2 separate regions of the Homo sapiens genome follow, and region 1 is linked to region 2. Evidence: fine-mapped expression QTL. A gene starts in region 2. The other region holds a variant in brackets. All regions are shown on one strand. Distances are between the middles of the regions.

Region 1 (11,852 bases), 25 kb after region 2:
TGTACTCCAGCCTGGGTGACAGAGTGAGACTGTGTCTCAAAGAAAAAACGGCTAGGCGCTGTGGCTCACGTCTGTAATCCCAGCACTTTGGGAGGCTGAGGTGGGTGGATCACCTGAAGTCAGGAGTTTGAGACCAGCCTTGCCAACATGGTGAAGCCCCCATCTCTATTAAAAATGCAAAAATTAGCCAGGCATGGTGGTACACACCTCTAGTCCCAGCTACTGGGGAGGCTAAGACAGAAGGATGGCTTGAGCCTGCGAGGCAGAGGTGGCAGTGAACTGAGATTGCGCCACTGCACTCCAGCCTGGGTGACAGAGCGAGACTCCATCTCAAAAAAGAGAAAAGGCTAGAAAAGGCATCACCAGGTCACCAGGGCAAAGGCCCTTTGGGCTTGAAAAGCATTGCTCCTAAAGCAGGGCCAGGACTTAATTCTAAGTGGCTGTTATGTGGTAAATTGTTCAGCTTTGAACGATTTCACAATCGTTTAAAGACATAGGAACCAAAGGCATGCTTTAATGCAAGTTTACTTCCACATGCTAAATATGCTCCAGCCCTTCCTTAAATTCTGCAACGACTGTGTTCCCAGTGAGTGTTGCGTGAGGGCCCGAGTGTGGTGCTCCACACAGATGTTTTTATGCAGGAAGTCCTTGTTCCTGAAGCCTCAGAATTTGATGAGTGGGAGCCTGAAGGCACAACCCTAGAAGGCCCTGTGACTGCCGTCATCCCCACTTGGCAGGCATTGACCACGCTTGACCTGAGCCACAACAGCGTCTCCGAGATCGACGAGTCTGTGGTATGCTCTCAGCAGCAGGTGCCAGGGGTTTCTCTGGCCCCACCAAACCCTGAGTTTGAGTATTTAACTCAGCTTTTTTAGGAAGGACCACGGAAAACCTATATCTAGTGCTCTGTGCATTGCCTGCCATTTTAAGTTAATTACAAAATGGGGGCTGGGCGTGGTGGGTCACACCTGTAATCCCAGCACTTTGGGAGGCCGAGGCGGGAGGATCACTTGAGGTCAGGAGTTCGAGACCAGCCTGACCAATGTGGTGAAACCCCATCTCTACTAAAAATACAAAAATTAGCTGGGTGTGGTGGTGCACACCTGTAATCCCAGCTACTTTGGGAGGCTTAGGCAGGAGAATCGCTTGAACCCGGGAGGCGGATGTTGCAGTGAGCTGAGATAGGGCCACTGCATTCCAGCCTGGGCGACAGAGTGAGACTCCGTCTCAAAAGAAGAAAAAAAAATGGGATCATTTAAAATTGGTGAGGTAGTACTTAGAACCAAATAAAACATAATAATTTCATGTAAATTTGGTAAACTATAACACACTAAATGATGACATTTGCTCCAAAGAGTGGAGCAGAAAAATCACTCCTTAGATGACAGATGTGCCCATGAAAGAATGACACCCAGAGGGCATTTGGGCAGTAAGAGTGTCGTTCCCGTGTTTGCGCTGCTCAGGGAGTGTGGGCAGGGTTGAAGAAGAACAGACTCTCTTCTCTGTCTGGGACCTTGCTGTGTGTCATTTTCACAAGCCAAGTGTTCCATGAAAACTGAGTAGTGCCCAGCACTGGGGGCCCTGTGTGTGCCTTTGGATGTGCTACTGGCTGGGCAGCGGGAGATGTCCCACCAGTGGTCCTGCAGGGACGGCCCGTGGGAGTCCATGGTCGGGAGGAAGCGTCCTGGGGTGCCCGTCCACTGTGTCGGGGACCGTGTTTGGGGTCCAGCCCCCTACAGTAACATCGGGTGTTCTTTTCTTTCACAAGAAACTGATCCCAAAGATTGAGTTCCTGGACCTGAGTCACAATGGATTGCTGGTTGTGGACAATCTGCAGGTAGTGCCTTTGGAGACCAGTGCTGCCCGCACACACTCCCAAGGCCCCGCCCTGAGATTTCAGGAGACTGACGCAGCCTTGGGAATTGGCCAGGGGTTGTAAGGGCAGGGGTTGCTGTCTTCGCTTTAGGATCCCAGCAATGCACTGAGTGATTGTTGCTCTAGTTCCAAAGAATTAGGAAGCATGAGTAAATACAAACCAGGCATGATGATGCACCTCCGTCCTGAAGGTGGACAGCCATGTTTTCAACGCCCACCCCAACTGTCTGCAGGGGTGCCACTGTGCTGTGGCATGTGCGGCAGAGAAGAGGGACTTCCCTTCCTAAAATAACTGTCAGAGTGACTTGCAGAACTGGGTAGTTTGGGTTGGAAGGCCCATCCTGCCATTAGTGTCAGGCCCCTATCTTTGGAGACTTGACCTGAGCCACTTTACGCTGTTCTCCACGCCGCTGCAGCACCTGTATAACCTTGTGCATCTGGACCTGTCCTACAACAAGCTCTCCTCCTTGGAAGGGCTTCACACCAAGCTGGGGAACATCAAGACCTTAAACCTGGCAGGCAACCTCCTAGAGAGTCTGAGTGGCCTGCACAAGCTCTACTCACTGGTCAACCTGGATCTCCGGGACAACAGGATCGAACAGGTGAGCCCAAGGACCTCACAGTTTTGGGATTTCTGTGCCTTGGTGTGTATCATGTTAAAGAAGAATGTTAAGATTCCTTTCATTTAAAAGAGACCATGAAACGTGTTGGCGTGTTGCTGAAGTGTTAAGAGAAGGGACCAAAGGGGATGGAACTCATACCTTGCAGATGGAGGAGGTCCGGAGCATAGGCAGCCTCCCGTGTCTGGAGCACGTGTCTCTGCTGAACAACCCTCTGAGCATCATCCCCGACTACCGGACCAAGGTGCTGGCTCAGTTCGGAGAGAGGGCCTCAGAGGTGAGCCCCAGCACAGTCAGAAGAGCCCAGGGAGACCTTCGGGATGCAGTCAAGTCTGCATGGGCGGTAGGGGGATATATGTCCATTGTTCTACCCTTGCCTGCTTCAGAAAGAGGTCCTGTCCCTTAGGGGCTTTTCAGTTCTGGGAAGTCCACTATCTCCCCAGGAAAAAGCTCCCTTGCATCTCCTGCCCCTACTGTCTGGGATAACATTGTTTATTCTAGGAAAGGGTCAGAAATAAGATCCTTAAAATATTCATATCTCCTGGACAACCTGTGGCCATAGTGCCTGACTGTAAACCCAAAGGGTTTGCCTTTGCCAGTGTAGCCCAGCCTGGTGTCTGCTGCCCCTCGCGGTGTCTGTGCACCTGCCACGATGCTGACCAGACACCCTTAACCAGGTTCACCCATCGCCTGGGCCTGGAGCAGTCCCCGTGATGCTCTGATTGGTCCTTGGACCTTCTGTTCTCCCAAAATCCCAGGTCAGAAAATACCTGGAAGTCTATTTGTGTCCCACCTCCCTCTTTGTGGCCGCAAGTGCCCCTTCCTCCACACAGTCACAAGACCATGAGATGCCATCTCCTCCCCTCCTGGGCTGCAGACTTTGGGAAGCTCCCAGGCCACAGAGTGTCAGCTCCTGTCCAGGCCCTTGGGACCTTCCCTCATTCAACCACCCTACCCAACCCCCCACTGCCTGCCAGCCACCACTCCCTCCCACATTTGCAGGCGGGGGCCCTGCCCTCTCCTGCCGCTGGTTCCCCTACCCAGGAGGCTCTCCCATCGCTCTTTTGAGAGTCTGCCTCCCACCTCTAACTGGGGGCTTAGTTCAAGTTGCCCCCTTACCCTAGTCCCAGCTGCCCAAGAGCTTGCTGCCTCCTGTTCTTGGTGAGGGACTCCAGAGACAGATGTGAGACCTCCCTGGACCCCTCCAAGGCATTCCCAGGTCACTTCCATGAGTAGTGAAGAGCCGCCTCTGAGCAGGCTGAGCCTCCCTCAGCCTATGGTGTCCTCACGTGGCCTGGCCCACAGCAGGTGCTCACGCCTCCTCCTCAGCAGAGCCCTACCATCCTCCTGCCATGCTCACCAGTCCCCATGCTGATAGCCATCACCAGTCCCCATGCTGATAGCCATCACCAGTCCCCATGCTGATAGCCACTTTCTGGATGCTCTAGGTCTGTCTGGATGACACAGTGACCACAGAGAAGGAGCTGGACACTGTGGAAGTGCTGAAAGCAATTCAGAAAGCCAAGGAGGTCAAGTCCAAACTGAGCAACCCAGAGAAGAAGGTGGGTTTGTGTGGCAGGTGGGAGGGCAGTGGTGCAGAGCCAGCCGGGATAGGAGCCAGTTTGGGGGGCTTGGGCCATGGGACTGCTCAGGGCTGCCGAGTCCCAGCTGCGCCCCTCCCTGGCTGCATGACCTCGGGCAAGTCGCGGCCTCTCTGTTCTCTGTGGGGTGGGGACAGTGGTAGTTCCTGCTCTAAGGATATGATGAGACCATCTTTACCACCCAGTTGGTGGGAACCGTTGCGCTCCCTCCTCACACCCCTGGCCTTGGGGAGCTCTGTGCTTCCTCTTCTCTCCCGGGCTGACTCAAGCACTCGTCCTCAGGGTGGTGAAGACTCCCGGCTCTCAGCTGCCCCCTGCATCAGACCCAGCAGCTCCCCTCCCACTGTGGCTCCCGCATCTGCCTCCCTGCCCCAGCCCATCCTCTCTAACCAAGGTAATCGTGTATGTATCTTGCTTCTAGTGGAGCCACACAGCCCTGCCTGGGCCCCCTGGCTGGGCTGGGGTTGGGGGAGAGGTGCCAGCACCTGCTTCCAACAGGGTCAGACACAGGGAGGGCAGTGCCTTCTGCAGGCTGGTCCTCGCGGGGGGACACATGGCAGGGGTGCCTGGCCTGATGCCAGCTGTTGCTTGCTTGGTGAGGACTCCCAATTGCTCTGATGCCCACATCCAGCTCCTCTAGGAGACCGCAGGGTGTCTGACAGGCCCTGAGGCTGCCCTCTGAACAGGCTCGGGGCTGTTGGCTCATGGGACCCATTCCCTCACCGGCAGCACAAGCAGGTTGGCTCCTGGTTACAGGAAGCCGGGCTTGTGACTTTACTGTCTGGAGCCCGAATCCCTGTGCAGGGAAAAGCTTGCTTTTATCACTGCCTCATCTCTGTGGGGTGACCCAGCCCCAGAACACCATGTTTGTGGGGCCAAGATGGGCCATCTCTGTCCCTGTGGACCCATGGAAGACCAGGCCCATTCGTCTGCCCACTATCTTAGCGTTTTCAAAGGGCTTTCACCTCTGAACCCAGGCATCCTCGGAGATGAGTGAGTGAAGCAGGTCTCATGAGCGTGTCTGCTGGCCCGGCCCCCACGGAAGAGGGGAGGGTGTGCCGTCCCGAGTGGAGCCGAGGCTCGGGACACGCAGGAAAGGACGCCGCCTGCCCGGGCTCCTGGAGACGCAGAACTTGGTGTGAGGTCTTGGGAAAACAGTTCAACCCGATGTTTTAAGAGCCAGAAAAACATTCCCACCCCTTGACCTGGTAACCCCACTGGTGGGGATTTTCTCTTAGAGGGATAAGATACCGGGAAGGGGAGGTGAAATGCTCACCACTGCCAAAACACGGGCTGCAACTGCAACATCGGAGGATGAGAGGGAGAGTCGGCTGTGGTGCAGAATGCTCAGCAGCCCTCCCAGCAGGGACAGGAAGACTGGGCAGGAAGAGGGGAGAAGCATTCAAGTTAAGGCAAAAGGCCCAACGCAGAGCAGCACACTGAGGTCACACCTGTGAGATGTGGAAGAGAATTCCTGAGCGTGGAGCGATGGGGTTAGGTGCCAGGATGATTGCCCATTTTGCTTCTGTCAGACTCTTGACTAAGGATTTCTGGTTGCATTTTATTACATAAAAGCCAGGGAGGTTATATCACGGTGAGAAAGCTTCCCTGACGCTGCCTCCTGTAGCGCAGCCAAGCGAGCCTGTGGAGGTACCATATGACTGTAGGCCTCTGGGGACAGGGAGCTGCATCTGCTTCTCAAGGCCAGGGACACAGCCATTTCTGCCAGCATCTGTTGATCAGTGAGTGAGTGAGTGGGCAGGTAGAGCAGGAGCCAGTGAAGAGCAGGCCCTGGATGGGTGGGGATGCACCATGTCCCCAGGCTGCAGCTGCAGGCAGCCCCCCACATTGTCGGAGAAGCCTCTGCACCAGCTCAGCCCCCTCCTCACTCCCCTTGTGCCCTGGGGACACTCTGCAGAGGGGCACTCTGCAGTCTGTCCCCGCCATCGCTGGACTTCTGGACATGGCCTCCAGATTTGCACCTCTTAAATAAAACTGCAGTGGATGTCTTTGTGTGCACCTCTCTTTCCTTTTGGTGAGAAACAGCAAAGATCGGACCCCTAAGGACTCTCCTGATGTCTCCGCTCTATCCGCTGAGTGCCCTTTCTGACCACTTGTTTGTACAGGCCACGGTCCAGGACGGGAGCAGATAGACTGTCCCTGTCCCTGTCCACATTTCCTTGGTCCAAACAGGGCTTGTGGGAGGTAGTGGCAAAAGGTGTTGGTCTTTTTCTCACTGATTTGGAGGCCTCCCCGTGTGTTTTTTCAGCCGCGTGTTCCTGGGTCTTGCCTGGATGGACAGGGTTTTTTAGCGCGTGGGAGCAGCTTTGCTGACCCATGCCTGTTGCTTCCAGCCTGATTCCCGAGAAGGGAGC[C/G]TGCTTGCGAAGGAACTGGCACTCGGGCCTGCCTGAAGGGGGCGCTGTCCAGACAACACCCAGCCTCCCGTCGTGGCAGGCGCTGTCGGAGCCATGGATGATTGTGACCAATAGGGGTGGTCGCCAGAGTTGATTGTCCAGCCAGGCCCAGGGGCTGAGAGGAGGCTGTGTGGAGAGGTGGTTAGGAGCCAGGGCTCGGTCAGCTGAGTTCGCATGCCAGCTTCCTAGCTGTGGGACCTCAAGCAACTTGTAGCCCCTCTGAAGCTGTTTTCTCAACTGTGAAGTGGACGCACCCTACTTCATTGATTCTAAGAGGCACGCATTTCCACCTTGTGACTTCTCTGAAACTGAGGTGCGTCTTTCAGTCAGTGGCGTCTCATAGTCGCTGTCAGCCAGCTGGTATTCGAGATGGAGTCGTGGAAAACCCGTGGACACCTTCCGCTAGGACCAAGATGGCGCCACCTGCCGCATCTTAGATTTGATGAAATGTGGTAAATAACGAGAGGCATGCATGAGCGAATGCTGGGGAGGCGCTTGGCACTACCCAGAGCTCCACAGAGGTGGTCGATGAGGGCTGCCCTTTCCCACATCCTTAGTAGGGGGTTCAAGATGACCCAGACTGTGCCCCTGGGGAGCTTGGAGCCATGCGGGAGGATGAGCCATGTGCTGGAGGAGAACAGGGTAGGATGGTGTGGGGCTTTTGTAGACTGTCTAGAGCAGAGAAGGTCTGCAGTGGAGGTGGTGTCTGAGGTGAATCTCGAAGGTGAATAGGAGTTGAACGTTAGCAGGCAGAGGGTGGATTGCAGGAGAGCAGCGGCCTGGGCAGGTGCCCAGCGTGGCCCATCAGGGTGCTTCATGCATGGCTGTGTGCTTGCCATCCTTCCTGCCTGCCTACCCCCTGCTGCTTCGCTTCGTGGGGGCGTTTGAGCTTGGGCCCACCTGCCTGCCTCGCTTGTGGGCAGAGGACCCAGGCTGTGTGAGTTGTCCTGTCCCGGGGAGCAGCTGAGCTGGTCGGGGGTCTCGACCTGTGGGGCTCAGAGGACTCGGGGTCATTTCACTGGGCTGTGGCGATGCTGGGCTGTGGAGGTAGGCCTAGGGCTCCTGTAGGCCTCAGTGAGACTGGCGGCCGATGCCCAGTGTTCACCCTGCTGGCGGCAGTCAGGAACATGTTCACAAAGGCTTTACCTTCAAGTGGTCTAGAGGTGATCTGAGGTGGAGTAACAGGTCCAGATAGGCTACGTTCATAAAACAGCTTCAGCGGGGTTTAGGAACACTGTGCATTTACGGGACGCAGTGGGTCAGAGTGCTGCTGTCCGTGGGAGGTGGCCCCAGGGCAGGTCAGTGGGCACGTCCTGTGGTAAGTGGGACTGTGGATGTGGGCTCAGGCTGGACTCAGCAGCCCTGCTGGATACCAAGGCCTGCAAGGGCTGGCCCCCTGGTGAATTGTCCCGTGCCCTGTGTATCTATGAGTCCTGCAGAGATGACAAATCAGGGGACGGGGTCATGTCTAGTCACCGTCTGGGAAAATGCTCCAGGAGTGAACACATTTCAGGCTCTTGATGGATGTACCTCCAAACTCTTCTCTGGATGGGTGGGCCAGCTTGCATGCCTGTGCCGGCCTCTGCCCAGCGAGGTCAGGGCCAGGCCACACAGTCAGTCTGACTTTGGCAGAAGTTGAGAGGCAACACTTGTCTCTTGTTTCAGCTTGCCTTTCTTTGTGTACTTCTGAGAGCGAGCATTCTTTTCATGTTCTATCCGCTGGCCGTTCTTCTGCGGAATGTCTGTTCACGTCCTTTGCAGTCTGTTAATGAGGTTTCCAACCTTCCCTCATTTTTGTAATCTGTAAGAACTTTTTACAGACTAGCGATATAAATCCTTGTCAAATATTGCAAACACTTTTCTCATTTCATCTGGTTTTAATCTATCCTGGTTTTTAAAAAATGTGTCTGTGGAAGTTTAATTTTTATGTAGTCACATCTCAGTTTTTTTCCATTGCATTTATTCTCAGAATGCTTCTCCCTGCCCTGAGATTAGATAAGCAGTCATTTGTTCTTTCTTGAGTTATTTTGAGATTTCAGTTTTAACATTTTCTTCTATAATCCATGTGGCTGGGTTTTGGGATCTGGCTAACCCCCGCCATGCCAGTAGCCTGAGGGGCCCAGCCCCACTTGTTGAACAGCCGCTCTCCCCGCCCCACCCACCCTGCCTGCCTGCCCACCCGCCCTGGTCTCTCCAGGAATCATGTTCGTTCAGGAGGAGGCCCTGGCCAGCAGCCTCTCGTCCACTGACAGTCTGACTCCCGAGCACCAGCCCATTGCCCAGGGATGTTCTGATTCCTTGGAGTCCATCCCTGCGGGACAGGTAATGCCCTCTTCCCGCTTCTGGGGACCATACATCTGTGGGTGGACTCTTCTGCTTGGGGTTGTGTGCAGTAGGAAGTGGCCTAGCTGGAGCTGAGGCAGATGCTTCCAGGGTTTGGCGTCCTCTGCTTTGTGCCACGGTCTTTCTCTTGGACCTGTCTCTGGTTGAGTGTCTTCCTGACAAACACAGTGGTTAAGGGTTTATTTTCAGCCTCCCTCCTTCCCTTCCCCACCCACCTTGGTTGATGGGAACAGGCAGTTCTCTGTCACTGGGCCCAGGGCACGAGGGGGGCAGGTGGAGAGGGTGGCCCTTGACCCTGTGAGCAGGCTTCCCTGGGGAAGGCATTTCAAAAGACCCTCGTGCAGGGGCTTGTTTGGGTTTCTTCTCTGTTTCCTGGCACCCCTGGAGCCACTCGGCGCCTTTCCGCATGTCACCCTGGTGGTCTGGGAAACAGTCTCACTCTGGCGCCTCCTCTGTGGTTGTTACTGAGAGTTCTGGGGCCCCTTCCTTTGTCCTGAGGAAAGACAGGAGGAAAGCAAGGGTGCTTGCTGTGTGCTTCGCAAATGTGCTTGGTGCCTGGGCCTCCCTCCAGCCCCATCTCTGCAGCAGCACAAGGTTATGGCCTTGTGACACTGGGACAGTTTGCAGAGTCCTTGTCTGTCCTCAGTACTCCACAGTATTCTGCCATCACCCTTTCCAGGGTCACACAGCAAGAGATTCCCAAGCCCTAGGTATTCCCCAGTGCACAGAGACCATTGGGAGGGACTTGCCAGGGCTGTGTCCACTGCTGGCCAGTTAGGGTCGGACCAAATTTGTAGACTGTCTACCTGGACCCTTGCGTGGCACAAGGAGCAGTCAGATGCTGGATCCCTGGAGAGTGGCGAGAGGCTCTGGCCCTAGGTTGCGAGTGGGAATCCCAGCCCTGCTGTGTGCTGGTGGGATAACCAAGTGGGTCTCTGCCCTTGGGTCCCAGAGTGGGCCCCAGGGTCCCAGAGTGGGCTCCAGGGTACAGCGTGGGGATGGGGAGCCTCCTCAGGGCGGTGATGGAGGGCAGAATGCCCAGCTCAGGGTCTGGCAACCAGTAAATGGCTGGGGCTGGCTGCAGTAGGTGGGGACTGACTGTGTTTCTTTCTCCATCAGGCAGCTTCCGATGATTTAAGGGACGTGCCAGGAGCTGTTGGTGGTGCAAGGTAAGGAAGAGGTTGGAAAGGGACCTGGGCCTGGCCACACAGCCTTATGCACACACACTGCTGTGGGCCAGGGGTGGCCAGTCAGGTTTTTTTAAAAATCCGTTCACAGAAGGCCTATAGAACTATTTCTTCCTCTAAAGAGACACAGATGAGATGGACTTTTCAATCTGTTTCCAAATTCTAATACCTAAACTCTGCTCAGCACATGTTGCCCTACACCAGGGGTTGGCAAATCAAGGCCTGTGTGTGGCCCACAGCCTGGGAGCTAAGAATGACAGTTACATTCTTTTTTCTTTTTTTGAGACTGAGTCTCGCTCTGTCGCCCAGGCTGGAGTGCAGTGGCGTGTTCTTGGCTCACTGCAACCCCCGCCTCCCAGATTAATGCAATTTTCCTGTCTCAGCCTCAGCCTTCTGAGTAGCCCGGACCACAGGCGCACGCCACCACGCCCAACTAATTTTTTATATTTTTAGTAGAGACAGAGATTCACCATGTTGCCTAGCTGGTCTCGAACTCCTGAACTCCAGTGATCCACCAACCTCGGCCTCCTAAAGTACTGGAATTACAGGCATGAGCCACCGCGCCTGGCTAGAATAACAGTTACTTTTTTTTTCTTTGAGACTGAGTCTTGCTTTGTCACCCAGGCTGGAGTGCAGTGGCCCGATCTCAGCTCGCTGCAACCTCCGCCTCCCGGGTTCAAGCGATTCTTCTGCCTCAGCCACCCAAGGTGCCCGCCACCACACCTGGCTAATTTTTCTGTTTTTAGTAGGGACAGGATTTCGCCATGTTGGACAGTTACATTCTTAAAGGGCTGCTGAAGATCGTATGGACATGGTAGCCCATAAATCCCAAAATGTGTACTCTGACCCTTTACAGAAGCTTACTAACTCCCACTCTACATGTGAGGGCTGCGGTGGCCAAGAAGAGCTGGAATTTAAGTGTGAAGGTCCTAAGACCTGCCCCAGCCCACTTCCCTGCCCCGGAGGCCACCAGGGGTGACAAGTAGATTCATGCCCTGGAGTGTTCCTTCTCTCCGGGGCTTATGGCAGCAACTGAATGACTTAGAAGTCCATGGGAGTGCTTCTGTTGTGGGAACTCGTGTGGTCTGGGCATAGCTGTGCCAGGCACCTATGGTCCAAGCCCCTAGAAGCATAGACTCTGACCAAACTGGCGACCCAGCCTTCCAGCAGGCAGCACTGGCTCCCACCAGGGCCCTCATCCTGGGAACTGACTTGGCCATGTGGGAGGCTTGGGAGACCCATGGGTTGGTTTCTCAGGGTCAGGGTGTAGCAGTGGGCTCCAGATGTGGCAGGTGGGAGGTGGGAGGGGCCCCTCCCAGCATGCCACTGACCTGGCCTCTCCCTGCACAGCCCAGAACATGCCGAGCCGGAGGTCCAGGTGGTGCCGGGGTCTGGCCAGATCATCTTCCTGCCCTTCACCTGCATTGGCTACACGGCCACCAATCAGGACTTCATCCAGCGCCTGAGCACACTGATCCGGCAGGCCATCGAGCGGCAGCTGCCTGCCTGGATCGAGGCTGCCAACCAGCGGGAGGAGGGCCAGGGTGAACAGGGCGAGGAGGAGGATGAGGAGGAGGAAGAAGAGGAGGACGTGGCTGAGAACCGCTACTTTGAAATGGGGCCCCCAGACGTGGAGGAGGAGGAGGGAGGAGGCCAGGGGGAGGAAGAGGAGGAGGAAGAGGAGGATGAAGAGGCCGAGGAGGAGCGCCTGGCTCTGGAATGGGCCCTGGGCGCGGACGAGGACTTCCTGCTGGAGCACATCCGCATCCTCAAGGTGCTGTGGTGCTTCCTGATCCATGTGCAGGGCAGTAT
Region 2 (8,366 bases):
CCCCAGCCAGCTGGGGTTCTTCTGGAGCCTGGGGAGGAGGGGGCTCACCGTCCTCGTCCACCTCATCGATCATCTCCTGCAGCTCCTCAGGGGTGGGGTTCTGGCCCAGCATCCTCATCACCTTGCCCAGCTCCTTGGTGCTGATGCAGCCATCCTCAGCGCCCAGCACGAAGATGTCGAAGGCTGCCTTGAACTCTGTGTTCAGGGGTTGGGGGGCACAGTAGTCAGGGCTCAGCAGCCAGGACCACGGAGGGCCAGAACCCTGGGGCCACCTGCCAACCTGCCCACCTCCCTCGGAGACCTCTCTGAGGGCAGAGCAAGAGGGACCAAGCCTCTGGTCTCTGGCCTGGGGTCCTCTTCTGATAAGGGGTCCCCATGCCAGCCTGGACCCGCTGGTCTCCCACATGTGTGATAGGGATTCTCACCATTTTTCTGCTCTTCTGTCAGCTGCTCTACCTAGAAAGGAAAGGGAATCTCAAGGCTCAGACTCAGGTATAGCTGCTGCTGAGGAAACCAACCCATTCCACAGGTGAGAAGGCTGGAGCTGGAGGAGGCAGGCTATTTCCAGGCCACAGAGTGGAGGTCTCAGTCCTCCCTCCCTGCCCCCAAAGCCCTGACGTGACCCAGCTGGCCTCACTGCGACTGGGCTCAGGGCCAGGGTGACAGGTGGGCACCCCCTTCAGGACCAAGGTGACCCTCAGTAACAATAGTCAGTGACCACTCAATGCCCTTTCGGCCCCTGATGAAACTCAAGCTGGGTGGCCCGAAGGACAGCTGTCCCTCAAGTTGGGATAATAAAACCAGTGTGGAGGCAGGCAAGCCACCCACGGTAACCTGACCAGGGTGGCCACTGGGCTATTTTTAACGAGGAACAAAGTTAAACCTGGTGATTGTTCTGGGGACTTTGGCATGCAGGGGGTGGGGCAGCGTTATCTGGCCCCCTGGCCTGCTAGTGCCGCCTCAGAAGCCAAAATTAGTCCCCAACTCCGCCAGGCCTTGTATGGGCACTGGGTGGAGGGCTGTCCCAACCCCGGCTCCATGGACTCCCACAGGATAAGCAGGCGTGCCCCCAGAGCTGGCTATAGCACTTCCCTGCCCAGGAGTGAGGGAGGCTGAGGGAGGGGTTCCCCTGGGGACAGCTGGCCATGCCAGGATGTCCTTGCTCTGGGGTTGGGGGAGGTCACCACCACCCAGGATAGAATAGCATCTGAAGACCCTCAGTGACCCAGGAGGTTGCAGGGGCTTGGGGTGACCACTCTCCAGCCCTCATTCCCTCGCTCTCACCCCTAGCTAAGCCACTGAGCCCTGAGCCTGCCAGGCATGATGGGAGCTGGGGCCCCAGTTCTCTGTTCCTTCTTCCTTGGTTCTCCCTCATGTCCAGAACTTCCCTGCCTCAAACTTCAAAGCCCCATCTCCAGCCCAGGACTCAGGCTCTACAGACCCCTCCTCTCACACCCTCCACCCTCCAAAGCATCTTCGGCCCGCCAAGGGGCTGGAGTGGGGTGGCAGATTTTGAGCATGTGAGAAGCAGAATGTGAGGGGCAGAAATGGGGGTTGGGGACAGGGAGACAGTAATGGGGACTCAGACAGCTCAGGAGGAAGAGATGAAAAGAGAAAGGCAAAAACGTCCAGAGACAAATGCAGAGACATGTGGCTGAGCGACAGTGCCACAGACCACAGACACTTGGAAACAGAGAGTGAGACACGATGCTGAAAGCTGCAACCTCCTCCACCACCCTTCAGACCCGGAACCCCCTACCCCTTCTGCATCCTCAAACACCAGAATCACTGTCCCTGTGAGGGCCTGGGTTGAAGGCACGTAGGCCTTCTCCTTGGTCCCCACCACTTCCCTGGGGCTACTAACCCCGCACTCTCAGCTGAGTGAGCCCCCAGTGGGCCTGCCCACCCCAGCCCTACCCAGCCCTGTCCCTCACCGCAGCCTTGTAGATGTCATCCATGCTGGCGGCTCACAGGACAGCTTGCTGGGGTTGCCAGCCGGCCCTTGACTTAAATAGCCCTGCCCCGCTGCATTCCTGGCCCAGCCCAGCCCAGCCCAGCCCACCCCTGCGTGTAGTATCCTCCAGCCCCTCCTCTGGTCCCAGTGATCTCAGGCTGGCCTGAGTCCCCACGTCCTCTGCCCAGGGCAGGGAGCAGACGAACGGCTACAAGGACCAGGTTTCTTTCCCTCCTGTCCCCCACACTCCCCAAAGGGACTCTCTGAAAAGGTTTCTGGAATGAATGAAAACATAAGCCCAGTGCAGGACAGGAGCTACAAAGTCGTGGGCCCCAGGCAAGGTGCAACACAACAGCTCAGGCTCCCATCCAACCAGGTTGGCGGGTTGCCATGACCTCCACTTTCCAGATAAGGAAACTGAGGCTCTGGAGGAGTGGTGACTTGCCCAAGATCTGACTGACTTGGTAACCCCCGCCTTTAACTAAACCTCTCTGGAATGGGGGTGCAATGTGCAAGGAGAGGCTAGGAGTGCAGGGCCCTGCCAAGAGAAGCCTCGAATGCCAAGCTCATAGTAAGATGCTGTGGAACTGGTGAAGGAGGAAGTGACTGACCCACCTTAGGACAGGGTGGCCAGGAGCCCTTCTGCCAGAGGAGCCTGTCCCAGACCTCCCATCTGCCCAGGGAGAAGTACCCACTTCGGGCTTAAGTCAGCTGCTCTCAGTTATTCAACAGCACCCCTATAGATGCCCCATCTGTGGCAGGCTCTTTCCCTCCTCACCCTCCAATTAGGTTACCACCTCCCTCTTCTAGGTCTCATCTTTCCCCGGTTTAGGATTCAGCACTGTAGTTCCTGGGTCCAGATCAACCTGTCTCCCTCGTTTTGAACTTTGGCAGGCCACCCCGTGGGGTTCTTGTGCTCAGTGGCAGCACACACCCCTCCATCCACCTACACCTTCCTTCGTACAGAGTTCGTATCAAGTTTATCCCTCTTGATAAACACGCTCCCTGCCTCGAGCACTACTGCGTGCTGGGCCGCGCATCAATCAACCCACTCAGTTGTCCAGAAGCCCCACTGACAAGAGATCTCCGAATCTCAGAGAGGTTCAGAACTGGCCCAGAATCACTCTCGCCCTGCTCCGGCGGTAAGCACAGGTCCTATTTTCCCCTCCAACCTGCCTTGCCCTAAAGAGAAAGAGCCCAACAGCCAGGTGAGGCACTATTATGGCCTCCTTTATCAGGAGGAGTAAACTGAGGCCAGGAAGAGCAGTGACTTGCTTCGTGTGGCCTGGGAGACTCGGGACCTTCTGTCCCCTCTTCCCGAGGACCCAGGGGCGATGCCCAGAGCTGTCACCACCCGGGGTCTCAGTTTCTAGCAGGCTGTGCAGGGTACCGCCGGCGGCGCCACGCAGGTAGATTACGCAAGCGAGCACCTCGCACGCGCGCCCTGAGTGGCCCCTGTCAGTCACGCGCGGGGGCGGGGCGAGGGCGCAGGAAGAAGGCGGGGCCAAGATGGCGGCGCAGCGCGCGGCGGGGGCGACGGGCGGCGGGGGCCGGGGGGCGGTGGGACGTTGACCCCGCCCCCTGCTGCTGCTAGTCTGCGCCGGGCGGCGGTGGCGGCGGAGACCCGAACATGGCGACCGCGCGCACCTTCGGGCCCGAGCGGGAAGCCGAGCCGGCCAAGGAAGCGCGCGTCGTGGGCTCGGAGCTTGTGGACACTTATACGGTGTGTTGGGGGCGCGGGCACCCGAAGCGGGGGTGGTGGCTGGAACCGGGAGTCCGACTCGGGGGCTTGGGGAGGGGTCCGGGATCTGCAGCCCCGAGGAGCGGGTAGAAGGGTCTGCGATTGCGAGGAGGGGGCTGGGACGGGGGATCTAGGAAAGGGATCTGGGCCCCGCAGGTCCGGGAGAAGGGTTGCTCGGGGCCCGGGGAGGCGGTTTGGAAAAGGGTACGCGATCAGAAAGGGAGGCTCGGGTTGGGGGCGGCATCTGGGGATAAAGGGGGCTTGGGGAGGGGGGTGTCTAGATGAGGCGGAACCCCTCTAGATCCTCTAGGACTGGAGGGGCCCCGGCCTGGAAGACCGTTACAGGGGTCCAGGAGGAAGGCGATGGGGAGAGGGTCTCTGATGGATGGAATCAGGGAAAAGGGTCAGGCTTCGCAGGCCTTGAAGAAAGAGAAGGCGTCAGGACCCTGATCTGGGGAGCCTGAGGTGGTGGTTGAGATTTTCTCTGAGAAGTGCAGGAGAGACCTGGGGAGCAGATGCCTTGGGGGTCGGGCGGAGACAAGACCGGAGGAGGGGTGGAGCCCATCTATGGAGAAATGGGGGTGGTCTCAGTGCTAAAGCGCAGGCCCTATAAGCCTTAGGAATCTTCGTGACTTTGGGCTGTGGGAGCGAGATGGGGCAACAAGCTGCCCACACACACTTCTAAGCTATGGGGGAGACAGAGGACAAATAGCGGGTAGTTCCCGACTTTGACGGGGTTGGATGCCAGGCCTGTGAGCCTGGTGGGCTGCCTGGCAAAAACCGGCCCTGGACTAGGCATAGAGCACCTCCCTGCCTCCTCCCCTTTGTTCCCGCAGGGTAGGGAGTGGGTGGGGGCCTTGGGCCTGCCTGCACCTCCCCTCCCTGGCCCTCATCCTAACCTTCCGCTCTGAGGGCCATTCTTCTGGCTCTTTTCTCCTTTCCTGAAGGCAAGGGGAAGGAATCAGGCAGGATGGGAAGAGGAGAGGGGTGGATCTTGAAGCAACAGGCCAGCCTGGAGAAATGGCTGCTCCTCAGGGCTGGAGGAGGCTTCAGCTCCATGCTGCAGAGAGGAGGGGGAAACTAGGTGCAGGAGGCGGGTGAGGTCTCTAAGCTGATGGCTGACTGGCCATCAGCTATGGGCACATTCAGCCAGAGGGCCATCTTCAAAAAGCTCACCCTATTCTGGACTGCGCCCCTCCTCTGCATGTATGTCGGGGGAGGTGGTGATCTAGTTTGGACCCTACCATCCTCTGTCTCCGGGTGTGCCGAGTTGGACATTATTAACACACCTACCTTTTGAACACTTGCCATGGGTCAGGCCCATGTACAAAGCATTTTACATGCATTGCCTTACTTGGTCCTTGATTCTAAGATGGAGGAACTAAGGCTCAGAGAGAACTTAGGCTCCAAGTTACTTATATAAGTGACACATAAGCTGCAGCCAGGAAATGGCAGAACCAGGTTTTTAACCCAGGCCTTCCTTAACCTCTAGGCCATATTGCCTCCTGATAGAGCTTAGTTGCTACCACTCCCTCCCCACATCAGCTGCTTGTGCCTTGATTCCTGGCTCAGCAGCAGAAATCACAGCCATGAACCAGTTGAAAGGGTTGGAAAATGACTTGCTTCCAGGAGGTAGTCAGGGCACCTGGAAAGAAGTACAACAGAGAAGATGCTCAGGCTAGAACTGGCCCTGCTCTGCCTCCCTTGGAAGAAATGGCCTTGCCTGCAGCTCCGGTTGGGTTTTGAGTTACCTAGAGGCAGGAGGTAAAAAACTAAAGAGGTGACTTGTGGTAATCACCTTTTTCATTCCTTACTGATGGATGGAGCCACATGCTTGTCTCATGTGCCTCCCAGCCCTAGTGCTTGGGCCATGGAGGAAGCTGAGAGGGGCCCTGCTGGTCAGCAAGGGTCAGGTGCAGAGGCTGGTGGGCAAGGGCAGCCTGACTTTGGCCTTGGGGTGGGTCTGAGTTGCAGAGAGAAAGACTGATAAAAGATAATTGGGAAAGATAATTGCAGCTTTTGCTGCTGGGGGAGGAGACTCCTTGTTGCTGGGCTCCCTTGCCACAAGGGCTGTTGGTTTCCCCTTTTAGGTTTACATCATCCAGGTCACTGATGGCAGCCATGAGTGGACAGTAAAGCACCGCTACAGCGACTTCCATGACCTGCATGAAAAGGTAACTGTTAAGAGCTGGGAGCACGTATCTCAGGGCTGGGGGACCCGTAGGCCAACTTTCCATTGTGCCACATATTAGTTTTAGGGCAAAACAGGTTCCATCTCTATAGTTCTTTAATAAACCACTTTGTTAATATAACTGCGTTCATTAATATAGCATGTAAATGCTAGCCTTCAGCTCTAGCATGAGCCACTCTGCAAGGAGCATATTTGAATTTCAGTTTTAATATTTCCAGTCCTAGCTTGGGTATGAGATGCTCAGACAGTTTCCTGGGAAGGGGACAGGTTTGAACTTGTTTGATCTAGCGATAGCTATTCCAAAGCCTTACTTTAATATCTGGCTGTGATTCCATCTCTTTTTTTTGCTTTTGGAGATGCTGTCTTTCTCTGGGTCATTTGCAGCATAACTGTTTTAAAGACACACCGCTGCCCTGATTGGTTTTTACTCTGGCTTGGAAAAGATGGCAATTTTAGGGGCAAAAGGTGTTACTTTTCTGAATGTCTCTAAAGTCTCCAGATGGAATTCCTTGTCTAGAATTGTATTGGTATTTCTAATGCTAATTGGATTTAAAGAGGCCAAATCCCAGGTGCACTAGTTTGGTCACTGATTTTGGTACTACTGCAGGGAGGGGCTGTGCAAGTGCTGACAAGCGCCTGCCCTCAAGCTTCTTGCCTTGGTCTTACATAGGCACAGAGCCTCTTAGTCTGTGGTTGATGTGCTTATGTTTTTTTACAGCTCGTTGCAGAGAGAAAGATTGATAAAAATCTGCTTCCGCCCAAAAAGATAATTGGGAAAAACTCAAGAAGCTTGGTGGAGAAGAGGGAGAAGGATCTGGAGGTCTACCTCCAGAAGCTCCTGGCTGCCTTCCCTGGCGTGACCCCCAGAGTACTGGCCCACTTCTTGCATTTTCACTTCTATGTAAGTTCCTCATCGGGTTTTCACCTGTGCCTGCAAACCCACAACTGCCAAACTTGAGGCAGCAAACCAGGGGAGACCTCAGCTTTGAGGTGGGCTGGGGTTTGACCCTAGGTTAGAAGATGGAGGAACGTCACCCTGGTTAGGAATGCATTGTGGCCAGAAGCATGTTAGTTGACAGATTTGCCGTAAATTAGACTAAATGTGGCCACAGAGATGCTTTCCTCCACCACAAGGCATTTTGTTTAGCAAAAATGGCCTGTGGGTGTTTAAGCTAGGTTTCCATCCAGATGGATGAGGCTGGATTAGAAATAGCTGACACCTGGGATAGACTATTGTTGAGTTGTTGGTGCATAGCCCAAAACTAATTAAGGGATTAGTCTGTGATGGTGGAATATCACCATCTTGGGGCGTGTCATCAGGGTCCGCGCTGCCAGGGTGCTAAGGTTGAGGGTGGACACCTTCCTGTGATGGGAGAGTGTGTCATAGAACAGCTCTGTACTCCGTCCTTGAAAGAGGAACAACTTTCATAGGTTGCCGGTGACAGAATGCGTTGTCAGACTTTAAGAAGGGCACTTAGGCAGTGTGAAACCACAATATTTGTGCTTTTGAGACGGAGTCTTGCTCTGTCACCTAGGCTGGAGTGCAGTGGTGCGATCTCGGCTCACTACAACCTCCGCCTCTTGGGTTCAAGCAATTCTCCTGCCTCAGCCTCCCGAGTAGCTGGGACTACAGACTTGCACCACCACACCCAGCTAATTTTTGTATTTTTAGTAGAGATGGGGTTTCACCATGTTGGCCAGACTGGTCTGGAACTCCTGACCTCAAGTGATCTGCCTGCCTCAGCCTCCCAAAGTGCTGGGATTACAGGCGTGTGCCACCGCACCTGGCCAAAACCACAATATTAAATAGCAGTTCTATTTATGAGAATTTCTTCTAAGGAAAAATCAGGCAGCCGCAAAAAGGATATATGAACAAAGGTAGTCATTCCAGGATTGTAACAAAATAGTAAGGACAACCCTAAAGTCTAGTAGAAGAGGTTAAAAAAAAAAAATCAGGCCAGGTGCAGTGGCTCATGCCTGTAATCCCAGCACTTTGAGAGGCTGAGGTGGGCAGATCACTTGAGGTCAGGAGTTCAAGACCATCCTGGCTAACATGGTGAAACCCTGTCTCTACTAAGAATACAAAAATTAGCTGGGTATGGTGGCAGATGCCTGTAATCCCAGCTATTTGGGAGGCTGAGGCAGGAGAATCGCTTGAACCCAAGAAGCAGAGGTTGCAGTAAGTCGAGATCATGTCACTGCACTCCAGCCTGGGCAACAGAGTGAGAGTAAGACTTCATCTCAAAAAAAAAAAAAAAAAAAAAAAAAATCAAAGGGTACAGCCAGGCTGAGCACAGTGGCTCATGCCTGTGATCCCAGCTCTTTGGGAAAATAAAACAAAAAAGAAATCTGCAGCTCCACCATCATTATCCCAGCAGCACACCAGTCTTCCCAGCAGACACTGTCTCAAAAAAAATGCAACTTTCTTAAGCAGTATCCAACTGTATGGCTGTACTATTTTTTTTTTTTTTTTTTTGAGA

What was found. PIP is the estimated chance that this variant, and not a neighbour inherited with it, causes the effect.
Region 1: its variant is the best candidate, but not a certain one, in a credible set for the expression of NISCH in ileum (GTEx, PIP 0.90).

Annotation. Positions count from the first base shown.
Region 1 is chr3:52,475,806-52,487,657 of GRCh38, forward strand. It overlaps NISCH (nischarin), which reads left to right. Exons shown (of 21, transcript NM_007184.4): 8 at 642-794; 9 at 1,769-1,837; 10 at 2,292-2,477; 11 at 2,644-2,772; 12 at 3,944-4,057; 13 at 4,379-4,490; 14 at 8,708-8,832; 15 at 9,973-10,022; 16 at 11,391-11,852. Among named protein-coding and RNA genes, the nearest start is that of STAB1, 14 kb to the right of the region's middle. The variant C/G (reference allele first, on the strand shown) is at 6,472.
Region 2 is chr3:52,452,058-52,460,423 of GRCh38, forward strand. It overlaps NISCH (nischarin), which reads left to right and starts at 3,547. Exons shown (of 21, transcript NM_007184.4): 1 at 3,547-3,677; 2 at 5,786-5,869; 3 at 6,605-6,787. The coding sequence starts at 3,585. It overlaps TNNC1 (troponin C1, slow skeletal and cardiac type), which reads right to left and starts at 1,984. Exons shown (of 6, transcript NM_003280.3): 1 at 1,935-1,984; 2 at 426-456; 3 at 49-195. The coding sequence starts at 1,958. RefSeq lists enhancers at 26-846, 4,526-5,201 and a silencer at 3,472-3,701.